2 linked regions of the Homo sapiens genome follow. The protein of the gene in region 1 purifies or fractionates together with the protein of each later gene. This does not show direct contact. Each region holds a gene or a part of one and is shown on either strand. Other genes may lie near its edges.

Region 1 (7,027 bases):
GAAATCCTGTGTTTCCCAAAGTGTCCATGTCACTGTCACAAGAGGATCAAGGAGAGGACCTTGTTTTCTTTCCCCACTCACACCCTACACCACCATAGGCCCAGCGAGACAGACACACTCAGGAGCTCTTACATAACAAATGAAGAAATGGAATGAAGAAATGAATGATCCAAAACCTCTTTAGAGACTGAATTTGCATGCAGAATCCTAGGAGGTTCTAGCCACACCTGTCCCTTGTCCTTCAGAGGCTGACACCCACGTTTCATCCCCCCACTACCTCTTGACCCTAAAGCAACCCCACCTCATGTAACTCTGAAGCTCTTTGGCCACCGGAGGGTTCTCAGGGCTCCTTGGTCCTGGACTGTGGAACTGGGGGCACCTGGTCCCTGGGGTCTCTGAAGTCAGTGTAGCCCTCACTGCTCACTGCCATGGTGTCTCTGCCTCTCTCTGCTTCTCTGTGTCCCTCATCTTCCTCCCACTTCATTCTGACTGGCAAGCCCTGTCCTGCACAGCTTCTTCCCCCACCCCTAGGTCTTCCCCAGACACTCCCTCTAACTAGGCTGACTGTTCAGTTCCCTTCCCGCTAACACTGTGGCCTGGCCCACCTCCCAGGAAATAGGAAAGGTGCAGAAATCACCTGGAGTTGCCACTCCTGCCAGGCTTCCTCTAGAGCCAATGTCCCCAGGTCACTAAGAGAATGAGTTTCCACTGTATTCCCATCCAGGGCTCTTTCCCTTTGTGAGGCTGACCTGTGGACAAGACCATGGGACAGGGATAGGCAGTTTCTCCATCCACTCTTATAATTGCCAGACAAGTTCTTCTGGCCTCCTGCACACACACACACACACACACACACACACACACACACACACACACACAAATGTATTGAAATGGTGGTTTGTAGTAAAGAAAGATTTTAATGACTCCAAGTCTGCCAAACAGGAGGATGGAGGTTTATTATTACTCAAATCAGCCTCCCCAGTGGATCAGGGCTTAGAGATTTTCAAGGATAGTTTCAGGGGCACAGGACTAAAAAATGAGTACTGCTGATTGGTGATGGAATCATGCGGGCGGAGGGAAATGATCTGTTTGTGCTTGAATCCACCTCTAGGTAGGGACCACATGACGGGCTGAGCCATTAGTCATAGGTATGGATGAGGTCAGCCGGTTGCCAGAATGCAAAAGAATGAGAAACATCTCAAAAGACCAATCTCACGTTCTACAATAGTGATGTTATCTATAGGAGCAATTAGTTACAAATTTTGTAAACTCTGGCCCAACGACATTTGAGCAGTCAAGGATTATAAAAACTCTGCCAACATTTTAGCAGAATTCAGTTCCCTCCTATAATCTTAATCTCATGGTCTTTCACTAGTTTTACAAAGGCAGTCCCTGGGCAAAGTAAGGGTGTTACTTTTACAGAGGAACAATTATCATTCTTGCTTCAAAGTTAAACAATAAACTAAATTCCTCCCAAGGTTAGCCTGGCCTATGCCCAGGAATGAGTGAGGACAGCCAGCCTGAGACTAGATACCAGATGGACTCAGCCATGCTAGTTTGCTGTCACTGTTGTAATCTTAGCACTGACTCACCAGAGTGTCAGAGGCTGGACAGGCCTGCAGTCCCCAAACCCCATGGGCTCATTTCACCCATTTCACTTGTGACTCCATCCTCAACCTGCTATAAAGCTCACATTCTCCGGTCACTTCCTAGAGACTTCTGGCTTCCTGTCAGGCATATAACAAGCTTGAAATTTGTTCCTCGGTTCTAACACTAAGTAAAAAGCTGAACAAACTCAAAAGTCAACAACTCATTAAAATCCCTCAGAGATGGCTGGGCACAGTGGCTCATGCCTATAATCCCAGGACTTTGGGAGGCCGAGGCAGGCACAAGGTCAGGAGATGGAGACCATCCTGGCTAACATGGTGAAACCCCGTCTCTACTAAAAATACAAAAAATTAGCTGGACGTGGTGGCAGGCGCTTGTAGTCCCAGCTATTTGGGAGGCCAAGCCAGGAGAATGGCATGAACCCAGGAGGTGGAGCTTGCAGTGAGATGAGATCATGCCACTGCACTCCAGCCTAGGTGACAGAGCGAGACTCTGTCTCAGAAAAAAAAAAATGTTTTTAGAGACATGAAGAATGCTTTTGATACTTACTGGTAGACTGAACATAGCTGAGGAAAGAATCCCTAGCTTGAGGATATGTCAATAGAAACTTCCAAAACTGAAACAGGAAAGTTCAACAAGAGTGGGGAAAAAAAGTGGAACAACATTTCAACTTCATATTTAATATTTTGATTTGACAATAGCAATTTTTAAATTTTGTAGCTGTGGGACAACTACAAAGGCTATAAGATACACGTAATGGGAATACTGGTGGTTTTGGGGACCAGGTGGAGGTGGCCAGGTGGGTGCTATCTGATGGCTTTACTGCCTGTGCCACATACAACTGTTTCCTCATGATGATGCCGTTTTCATAAGTTGGAGTTCTGCGTGTGGGGAGACACACAAACCATTGGCATCTCACTTAGACTCTTTCTAATTCACACAAACTTAAACACTAGTGGTGTTTCCTGAGCTTAAGAGAAAATGAAGAAAGCATTTCACATACCTGTTTTGGGGTCCTCCCCATTTTTCCTAACTCTGCACAGAAATTAGAAGCAGGTTCTTTCTATATTTACTAACATAACACACATCACTTCTTTTAGTTTGGCATCCTTCCTCCCTTTATGCAATTGACACACTAACCAGTTCTGTCCTTTTAACGGGACTCTCTCTACTTAAGGAGTTGCTAATTTCAAATCACCTTTGGCATCTTTCTTTGAGCATAATGTGATCCTGCTGGAATTCACGGCACACCTAAACCTTATTTTGGTCTCAAGAGAAATACTACTACCAGCAATTGATCTTAGATGTTTGGATCATCAGTAAAAATTTCCACTTATGAAAACATTTCAATGTTTCCTCCAAATTTTTTGCTGTTGTTGTTACTAGAGTCAGAACATAAGGTCTAAACTCCTGACAAATTTTTATGGGAAAATTACAGTATTACAAATTGAGCATCGGAAATCCAGAAATCCACAATCTGAAATGCTCCAAAACTCAACCCTTCTGACCACTGATGTGATGCTAAAAAGAAGTGCTCACTGGCGCATTGTGGATTTTAAATTTTTCAGATTTGGGATGCTAAACCAGTACATGTACTGTAAATATTCCAAAATAAAAAAAATTAGAAATCCAAAACACTTGGTTTTAAGCTTTCTGAATAAGGAGCACTTTATCTGTATGAACTATAGGCATGAAGCTGTACAGGAGATCTCTAGAACCTCCTCATCCTGCATAACTGAAACCGCACACCCACAGAACAACGCCCTATTCCCCTGATCCCAGCTCCTGGAAACTACTATTCTACACTCTGATTCACTCTGGAATCCACTGATATCAGGTACATAGAGTAGTCAAATTCAGAATCAGAGAGTAGAATGTCTAATGAGAGAAAGTATCTGCAAGGCTTCTTCCCAAATATTGGTCTAATATCCACCAAACACATATGGTCCATGAGGGCCAGACTTCCATCATCTGTTCATGTTCGCCCTTTCCACCAGTCGGTTCTGCATTTGCAAACATCCACATGTATTTCCAAAAAGATCCACATGGTCCTCACCTGCCCTCTACAGGGGGAAGGGAGCATCATGGACCCAGAACAGGGAACGTGGTCTTGGTCCAAAGCTATCAGCTCTTGCCTGTCCCCTTCACTCTTTGTAGGTCATTCCTTGGACTCTGCTCTATCTTTAGAGGTCACTGGCTCAAGTCAGCCACTATGAGACACCTGGGAAAACTGCCCCACCTTGTGGCTCCACTGCCTGATGACTGAACTGAACTCCGGACTTGACTCTGTTCTCCCCTGTGTTATTTCTGCTGAAGTACCCAGTCCCAGGTCAGGCTTTCCAGTATCCAAAGGGTTTAAAGACAATTGGAAGTTCCATCACCCATCTCTAGGATGTCCTTGGCAAGGGAAGCTGCAGAGAAAACATACCTCGGGCGGCAAAGTAAGACTGAAACTAAGAAGATTCCAGCACTGCATGCTCCAAGTGAGGACCACAAGGTGGGCCAGGCAGGCACTTCGAGATGGAGGGACTCAGAGAGGCACCAGGGGCTGTGACTGCTGGTCCTGTGTCTTTCCGTGACCCAATGCTGCTGCTCAATTCACAGTTAAGAAAGTCTGTGCTTCTCCCACACGAAGCAGGCAGCCTCACAATCTCTGAGCCCTCAGATTGCCATGCATCTGTCTTGTAACACACACACCTGCCATGGGCTTTTAAGGACTTGGGTGGGCTGAGAGGTGGGAAATGCCAACTCTGATTGAAAAATGCCTTTGGAGGAATCAAAGGTGCCACACAGGGCAATCTTCTCTCTGTTTTCTGCACAGTGGAGACTCCCAAGCCCTCCATCTCCAGCAGCAACTTATACCCCAGGGAGGACATGGAGGCTGTGAGCTTAACCTGTGATCCTGAGACTCCGGACGCAAGCTACCTGTGGTGGATGAATGGTCAGAGCCTCCCTATGACTCACAGCTTGCAGTTGTCCAAAAACAAAAGGACCCTCTTTCTATTTGGTGTCACAAAGTACACTGCAGGACCCTATGAATGTGAAATACGGAACCCAGTGAGTGCCAGCCGCAGTGACCCAGTCACCCTGAATCTCCTCCGTGAGTATCTCCTGTTCCTCTGTGAGCCAGTCTGCCATCCCAAATACACGTGGCCAGAGGCCAGGCCTCTCAGTCCCTCTCAGGTCCAAGTACAGAGACCTTTACCCCTGGACATCAAACCTGGCCATGACTTTCTGCCCCAGGCAAACCAGAGTAGGCCTAGGCTTGATCAACAATAGGAGAAAAGAGGCTGCTCCTGTCATGGGAGACTCAGCGTCCACAGCTTGTGATGGGCAAAACAGGTGACTGTCTCAGGCTCCAGATCAGTGAACACAGCAGGGATTTGGCTGGGACTTCAGTGTTGCAACTTGGCTCACAGGGTCACTGTGGCCCTTCCACAGACCAGGATTTTCCCTTCCCTCTGACAATACCACCTATGACATTATTCTCTTTGCTCCACATGGCCTGGATGCCCCCACCATTTCCTCCTCATACACCTATTACCATACAGGGGAAGCCCCCAAGCTCTCCTGCCTCACAGACTCTCACCCACTGGCAGAGCATTCTTGGCTGATTGATGGGAAGTTCCAGCAATCAGCACAAGTGTTCTTTATCCCCCAAATCACTAAAACATATAGAGGGGTCTATGTCTGTTTCATCCATAACTCAGCCACTGCTGGAACAAATCTCATAATCAAGAGGATCATAGTCCCTGGTAAGTGGATCCCTGGAGCATTGGCACTATGTTTTCCAGTGAAGTCTATCTAGCTATCAGGGAAGAGCCACCTGCCCTCTGCAAAGGGAGAGGGAAAATCAAAAACCCAGGACAGGGAATATGTTTCTGCTCCAAAACCACCAGCTTTTGCCTGTCCCCTTCACTCTTTCTAGATCATTCTTTAGACTATACACTAACAATGAACAATCTGAAAGGAAATTAAGGAAAGAATTTCAGTTCACATTAACATCAAAAGGAATAAAATATTTTGAAATAAGTTTAACCAAAAAGTCAAATGATTATACCCTGAAAACTACAAAAGATTGCTGAAACAAGTTAAAGACGATATCAATATATGGAAACACATTTCATTTTCATGGATTGGAGGAATCAATATTGTTAGAAAGATAATATTCCCAAAGTGAGTTGCGGATTCAATGTAACACCTAACAGAATCCCAGTAACATTTTTTGCAGAATTAGAAAACACTGTCCTAAATCTCACCTGACAGGCTCTTATTAATGACTGCCACAACAGATACACTGAGAAAAAGAGGCAACCATGAAAAGGTGGAAAGTTCTGATGACATAGAAAATAGCAATCAGCCTTTCTCACATCCCAAGGCCTTCAAAAATATACAAGTGCAGCATGGCCAGTATGGAATTCACCGAAAACTAATCACCAAGCTAGAAAAGTGGTGAGAGAAAAAAAAAGGGCAAGAATATCTTTGGCTTATCACCTCCCACTTTTGCCTACTAATCTGATGCTGAAAAGAAATGCTCACTGAAGCATTTTAGATTTTGAGTCTTTCAGATTTGGGATGCTAAACCAGTAAGTATATGACAAATATTTCAGAATCAAAAAATGTCAGAAATCCAAAACACTTTTTGTCCTAAGTCTTATGCATAAGAAATACTCAATCTGTGTGAACTATAGGCATCAAGCTCTACAGCAGATCTCTAGAACCTCCCCACCTTGAATAACTGAAACTGCCCACCCATGAACAACTTCTGATTCTCCCCACTCCCAGCTCCTGGCAACCAGCAGTCTCTTCTCATATTCACTCTGGAATCCACTTACATGAGGTCCCTAGAGTAGTCGAACCCATGGAATCATTGAGTAGAATGTCCAATGAAAGAAAATATTTGCAAAACTTCTCTCCAAATTTGTCTCATATCCATCAAACACATATGGTCCATGAGGACCAGATTTCCAGCAGTTCATTCCCACCCTTTCCACCAGTCAGTGCTGCATTTGCAAATGTCCACATGTATTTCTGGAAAGATCCACATGGTCCTCACCTGCCCTCTGCAGAAGGAGAGGAAACTTAAAGAACCCAAGACAGGGAACATGCTTCTGCTCCAAAGCCACCAGCTCTTGCCTGTCACCTTCACTCTTTCTAGATCATTCCTTGCACTCTGCTCTATCTTTAGAGGTCACTGGTTCAAGTAAGTCATCATGAAACACCTGCAAAAAACTGCCCCACCTTGAGCCTCCACTGCCTGATGACTGAACTGACCTCCAGGCTTGATTCTGGTCTCCCCTGTGTTATTTCTGCTGAAACATCCAGTCCCAGGCCAGGCTGCTCAGTATCTTCAGGGTTTCAGGGCCATGGGAAGTCCCATTATTACTCATCTCTAGAATGTCCTTGGAAATGGAAGTTG
Region 2 (7,027 bases), on another chromosome or scaffold:
GTCTGAGCCTCAGTTTCCTTGTCAGGAGGCAGGGAGGGTGGCTTGCCCTGCAGCTCAAATGGATGGAGCACTGGCAGGCTGGATGGTGTCCGGGTGCCTGGGCACAGCCTCCAGGTCCTGGAGCCTCCAGGTCCTTTTCTGTGATCCCTGCTGGGAGGGGAAGCTGGCCTTGCACCGCGTCCTGAGAGAGGGGGACAGTGGCACTGGAGCTGTTCCTGCTCTGTGATGCCTGCTGGGAGGGGAAGCAGGCCTCGTACCAGGTCCTGAGAGAGGGGGACAGTGGCACTGGAGCTGTTCCTGCTCTGTGATCCCCGCTGGGAGGGGAAGCAGGCCTCGTACCAGGTCCTGACAGAGGGGGACAGTGGCACTGGAGCTGTTCCTGCTCTGTGATTCCTGCTGGGAGGGGAAGCTGGCCTTGTGCCAGGTCCTGAGAGGGGGGGACTGTGGCATTTCTCTCATCACTAGCCCGCAGGGGTCTAGGAGAGGGTGACACCAGCCAGGGCTGGCAGGGCACCCTCTCTGCTCTCTCTAGCCTTTCTGGTAGCAGCGGGACCCTCTCTTCAAGTGCACTTGAGATGGTCACCCAGCCCCTGACAGCTGGAGCACTGGGGGGCAGCGGATAGACAACTTACACTGGCCTGTGTCCTCAGCCCACACCCTCTCTGTGGCAGCCCCTGGACACCTCGCCACAACCCAGCTCCTCCACCATGTCGGCCAGGCCCGAGGAGGGCACCAGGCCCCGTGGGTGTCAAACACTCAACCCCAAGCAGTGGGGTGCAAGGAGGGGACAGAGGGGCCTGCCCTGGTCACTCCAAATGCTCCTACGCCCAAGAATTCGACGCCTGTCATAGCACACAGGCATGCATTACTAGTGTCATTAAAGAAATATAATCAAGTGCCGGGGCAAGGTAGAGCCTCAAAGAACAAAGTCTAGAAAAAGGAACCTGTTCCTCCCCAAAGTGCTGCTCCACAGGAGGAGCCCTGGCTGCCGGGGAGCCCAAGGCCAGAGCCCAAGGGCGGCCTCACCTGGTGGCAGGTCCCTAAGAACCTCCCCACATAAGTCGTCTCCACCAGCCCCTCAACTCGAGCACTCAGGCTCCTTTCAAGAGCACCTGTCACGCGAGGGGCTGTGCACAGGACACATGGTCCCCTCCTCACACCACCCACCCGAACTTCCAGCTGAGGACACAGAGGCACAAGCAGTCATGTGCCCCCAAGCCACTCAGCGGGGACAGCATTCAAAGCCTAGGCTCTCAACCACACCCTATCCCCAGATGCAAAGCTGACCACTGAGCGGTGTGCTCCAGTGCAGGAAGGCAGGGGGCACGCTCTTGCCTGTCTCTAAAGCCACTTGGGGCACATGTGCCCTTGTAGCCTGGAGGCAGTCCTGCCAGCTCCTGCTGAAGTTGCAGTTTTCAAACTTTCAGGGCCAGAAGGACCCTTATCTCAAATAAAACCTCTGAAAGTACAAATATCTAATTATGACACAATAAAAAATAAATATTTGGTCCCAGCCCCAGTTCCTGACACAGAGTCCTCTAAAACCCTTGTCATTTCCTCAGCAACAGGGGTGCTAGGAGCCTCTTTTGTTCTAATATTTGTTCCTTGACCTTTGCTCCCAACACAGAACTCCAAACCCTTGGAATTTCCCGGGTGGTAGGAGTGTCTTATGTGCCAGTGAGGTGACTCTTGGCTCCTGGAGGTGGCTGGCTGCCAGAAAGACCAAGCCATGATTAGAGACTTGGAAGTGTCGTCTAAGAGCTCCCGAGGAAAAACAAACAAAAACCTGGGCCAGGTGGGCCGGGCATGGGGGCTCACGGCTGTAATCTCAGCACTTTGGGAGGCCGAGGCAGGTGGATCACCTGAGGTCGAGCGATTGAGACCAGCCTGACCAACATGATGAAACCCCGTCTCTACTAAAAATACAAAATTAGCCAGGCATGGTAGCATATGCCTGTAATCCCAGCTACTCGGGAGGCTGAGGCAGGAGAAGCACTTGAACCTAGGAGGCGGAGGTTGCAGTGAGCCAAGATCACACCATTGCACTCCAGCCTGGGCAACAAGAGCGAAACTCTGTCTCAAAAACAAACAAAAACCACTTTGGGAGGCTGAGATGGACAGATCATGAGGTCAAGAGATTGAGACCATCCTGGCCAACATGGCGAAACCCCCATCTCTACTAAAAATACAAAAATTAGCCAAGCGTGGTGGCACGTGCCTGTAGTCCCAGCTACTCAGGAGGCTGAGGCAGGAGAATTGCTTCAACTCGGGAGGCGGAGGTTGCAGTGAGCCAAGATTGTGCCACTGCACGCCAGCCTGGGCAGCAGAGTGAGGCTTCGTCTCAAAACAAAACAAAACAAAAACAAAACAAAAACCTGGAACTGAATTTCAGCCCAGCCCCATCCTCCAGGGAGGGGACAGGGGCTGGAGATGGAGTTAATCATCAATCCTGCCTACGTGATGAAGCCTCCAGAAAAGGCCCTGAAATGGGGTTTTCAGGAGAGCTTCTGGTTTGCTGAATACGAGGAAGGTGGTGCGCCCCACCCCTTCCCCCACACCTCACCCTGTGAACCTCTTCATCTGAATCCTTTACAATAAACCAACAAACACCAGCCAAGTGTTTCCCTGGGTTCTGTGAGCCACACTAGCAACTCATCAAGCCTGAGGAGGGGACTGTGGGAGCCTGATTTATGGCTGGTTGCTGAGAAGTTCAGGTGACAGCGGGGGCTTATGAGTGGCATCTGAAGTGGGGCAGTCTTGTGGGACTGGGCCCTCAAAGTGCAGGGGTTGCATGACCTCCAGGCAGCGTTGGAACTGAAACCAGTCAAAGGACCCCAGCTGGTTCCCGCAGAAAAGTGGGGAGTCCCTGGGGTGGGAGAAACCCCTCACATCGTGGTAAAGTCCTGGGAGTATGGTCAAAGAGCACGGTTTGGTTTTCTCCCTCTGGTTAGTAAGGTGGACAGAAGCCTCCCCCAGGAGTCTGGGGCCCCCAGCCAGGCCGGTGCCAGCCGCCCGCGGGACTCACACTGCCCTGCCGTTCAGGAACTCCTCCGATGCCTGGCAGTAGATGGTGATGGCCACGCGGGCATCGGCGTCGAAGGTGAACTCCAGGCTGTAGAGCACCCGGGGCTTGTCGCCGTCCTCGGTGGGGCTGTCGGCATCGTCTTTGTACCTACCCCAGGCGGTGGAGAGAAAGGCAGCGGGTCAGCGGCCCCATCTGCGGAGGCTGCCTCCTCCCCTGCCAGGCTGAGGGGCCGTGGAGGTGGCTATGTGGACACAGCCCGCTTCTCCAGTAGACATAGGGGCTGTTTCCTATTTGTACATGAAAGCCCAGTGGTCCAGGGCTTGCCTCTCCTTCTTCCTGCCCACAGAAGACGGGGTACGTGCTTTTGGTTCAGAGACAGCCCCAGATGCCTCAAGTCTAGTCGGTTTAAGCAGTTTCTGAACCTGCTGAAATCTGGTGCTGGGTCATTCCTGTCTGTGGGGGGGCCGTCCTGTGCATGGCAGGAAGTCTGCAGCACCCCTGGCACCCACCTGAGATGCCAAGCACCCCACCTGGCTGCCTCCAGACACTGCCCAGGGTCCCTGTGCGGCACAGCTGAGAAGCCCTGGCTAAACGGCTCTTGTTCCACATGCCCTTTCCCTCGCTCAGCCCAGGACAGCCTCTCATTCCACACGGGAGGGCGCAGAAACTGGGGCCCCTCCCGCCTGCCCTTTTCCTCAAGCATCAAGCCAGAACCTCCACCACAGGCTGCGCCCCACAGAGCCACAGGGTCCCCAGGGGCAGGGTGAAGTTACCTCACCAGCCGCAGGGAGTCTTTGCGGATGTTCACCAGGCTCCGCAGCGTCTTCACGGGCTCGTGGGGGGCAGGAGTGACGTAGGGAAACTAGGAGAAAAACCACAGGGCCCCAGGTGACTCCCTCAGGAGCAGCCAACAACAGAAAACGGGTCAGGGTGCAGCAGCCACAGCCCCAGAGGGTATCCCTGGGATCTAGTCCCATGGGAGGGGCTATACTGGGTGCACTGTTCTCATTTACAGGTAGAAGCTGCAGGCCACGCAGCCAGCACACGCAACGGCCAGGACCAAATCACCCTGAGCAAATCCAGCCAGGCAGCCTCAACGCCAGACCCCTGCACGCTGGGGCTGCCCATCCCCAACCTGCTCTCCCAGGCTTCCCATATCCATCACTGCCCCGAGCACCCTCAGCCCCTTCCTCAGTCCCCACCCTTTCCATCCCCAAAGCTTCCTACGAGCACAGCTCAGCAACCCGCCCCAGGGCCCCCAAAGTTTACTGGCTCTTCCGGCCTCCTGTCCCCTGAGGCCTGCACCCTCTCACCTCTTCCTCTGTTCCCAGGCCCCCTGCCTTCTAGCTTCTTCTGGAGGGGCCCCCTTCCCACCTATCATGGCTTGGTTCAGCCATGGCCTCTCCAGTAGAGCCTCCCTTTCTGCCCCTTCTCTCTTCTACCCATTTGTCCCGTATTAATTGTCTACGCCCCCACCAGGTAGCAGAGGCAGGGTCTGCTTTCACCCCAAGCCCTGGAAGAGCACTAGGCACGCAGCAGGTGCCACATGTGTGCTGAACAGACAGCTCACAGTACTCGAGTACTATGACAGTACTCGAATGTGCCCTTCTCTGGCAACGAGGGGAAGATGTTAGCCAGCTGTCTGCATCTCTCCTTTGGACCATGTCTCTTGCCCACTGTTCTAGGGAAAGTAAATATTCTTTTTTTTTTTTTTCTTTGAGACAGTCTCCCTTTGTTGCCCAGTCTGGAGTGTAGTGGTGCAATCTCGGCTCACTGCCACCTCCGCCTCTCAGATTCAAGTGATTCTCCTGCCTCAGCCTCCCGAGTAGTTGGGATTACAGGCACGTGCCACCACACCCGGCTAATTTTTCTTTTTTTTCAGTAGAGACGGGGTTTCACCATTTTGGCCAGGCTTGTCTCAAACTCCTGACCTCAGGTGATCTGCCCGCCTCAGCCTCCCCAAGTGCTGGGATTACAGGCGTGAGCCACAATGCCCAGTCTGTAAATACTATTTTTGCCTTGTAAAGAAAGTCATCCAAGAAGGCTGGAATCAAATCCACCATGTTCCGCAGCCGTTGCAGCCCAGACGCACCCATTCAGTATGGCTGCTCTGTTTCTCAGTGACCTGCCCCTGGCCATCTGGCCTCTAGGGGGCAGCACCAGGACACAACCCATTCCAGGGCACGTGCCCACACCCAAGCTCAACTGGAATCCTGCCAGGAGCTCTGCCCCCTTTAGGGGTGATTTGGTGCCTGCTTGCCCTCATGGCTGGGATGCGGACTGCTGGGGACAGGGGCCTCCCACCCCCACAGCCCCATGAGACAGCCCTGTCCAGACCCACCTGGACCGGGCGGCTGCCCAGGAAGTTCAGATCCATGTTCTCTCCAAAGAGGTAACCTTCAGGGTGGGGGGTGTCGAATTTCTCTCCTCCCATGAAAAAGTGCGAAGCAAAGTAGTTTCCTGTTTAAAAAAGGAAACACGATTATAGATTTTTTTTTTTTTTTTTTGAGACAGAGTCTCAGGCTAGAGTGCAGTGGCGCTCCACCCAGGCTGGAGTGCAGTGGCGCTATCTCAGCTCACTGCAAGCTCCGCCCACCGGGTTCAAGCGATTCTTCTGCCTCAGCCTCCCGAGTAGCTGGGATTACCGGCACCCACCACCACGCCCAGCTGATTTTTGTATTCTTAGTGGAGACGGGGTTTCACCATATTGGCCAGGATGGTCTCCAATGCCCGGCCTCAGGTAATCCGCCCGCCTCAGCCTCCCAAGGTTCTGGGATTACAGGTATGAGCCACGGCGCCCAGCCTGGAAACAGTTATCGACTCTGAGGCTGAACACAGCCTGGTGGGAACATCTGACGGCCAAGAAGCTCGGCCCTGAGAAAGGCTCCACCTGAGGGGAGCTGATGCAGACAGGCCAGCGGGTGCCCCTCATACCCTCTGCCTCGGCCACCTGGCCTCGGGCCTTCCAAGGTGGCCTCCTGGCCTCTCCACACTGCCAGCCTCAACACCCTTCCCTGGACGGCTCCTCGCTGCTCCCAGCCCATCAGCCAGCATCCAGCTCCAACACCACTTTCTTCTGTAGTGGCCTGAGCTGTGTTTCCGATGAAGTTCGGGTCCTACTCCACACCCAGCCCCTACCTGTGCATGTGACCTTATTTGGATCTAGGGTCTTTGCAGATGTAATCAAGTTAAGAGGAGGTCATACTGGATTGAGGGGCTCTAAATCCAGTGACTGGTTCTTAACAGAAGAAAGGAGAGGGAGGTTTGGACGCAGACTTGAAGGGAAGGCCAAGGGAAGAGATGGAGGCAAGAGATTGCAGTGATGCGGCCACAAGCCCAGGGATGACAATGAGTGCCTGGGGCCCCAGGAGTGGGGAGAGGTAAGGAAGAGTCCTCCCCCAGCGCCTTCGGGGACCGTGGCCCTGCTGGCACCTCGGTTTCTGACGTGTGCCTCTGTGATGGTGAGAGAATACATTTCTGCTGTTTCAAGCCACGGTTAGAGGTCATTTGTCACAGCCACCCCAAGAAATCCTTACACATTTCGTGACCCCAGGCTAAGTCACCTTACCCCCAAATCTGAGCCCTGTGTACTTTCCATGGCAGCACCCAGCCGGGTTTAGAAGTCTCTGTGGATCTGGGCTAGTTCGTTCAGTCTGACTCCCGCGTGAGGGCGGGAGGCTGTAGGTGGCGCCCATCAGGACCCTGGCACACTTAGGCATGAGATCTGCGCTTCTCCTATGAGGAGGGGATGGACAGCTGGGCATCCTCAGAGACCTGCGCTCACAGCCCTGCCAAGGAACACTGAGAGCATGGCCTCTCCCCTGGATTCCTGACCTGACGCCCAGATCCAGCCCCATTTCTCCTGGCACACAGCCCCGGAGAGGAGGACCCGGGTGACCACGGGAAGAGTCCCCGAGAGGAGGAGCCGGGTGACCACGGGAAGAGTCCCCGAGAGGAGGAGCCGGGTGACCACGGGAAGAGCCCCGGGAGGAGGACCCGGGT

Evidence for each region.
Region 2: the proteins of PSG3 (region 1) and MGRN1 purify together in Homo sapiens (co-immunoprecipitation; 2 studies listed by BioGRID and IntAct, with this or other methods). This does not show direct contact.

Annotation. Positions count from the first base shown.
Region 1 is NC_000019.10:42,730,465-42,737,491, reverse strand, and holds part of PSG3 (pregnancy-specific beta-1-glycoprotein 3 precursor), read left to right. Parts: intron 1-4,429; coding exon 4,430-4,708; intron 4,709-7,027.
Region 2 is NC_000016.10:4,648,823-4,655,849, reverse strand, and holds part of MGRN1 (E3 ubiquitin-protein ligase MGRN1), read right to left. Parts: intron 5,486-7,027; coding exon 5,367-5,485; intron 3,888-5,366; coding exon 3,799-3,887; intron 3,173-3,798; coding exon 3,026-3,172; intron 1-3,025. UniProt on the Homo sapiens protein: E3 ubiquitin-protein ligase. Mediates monoubiquitination at multiple sites of TSG101 in the presence of UBE2D1, but not of UBE2G1, nor UBE2H. Plays a role in the regulation of endosome-to-lysosome trafficking.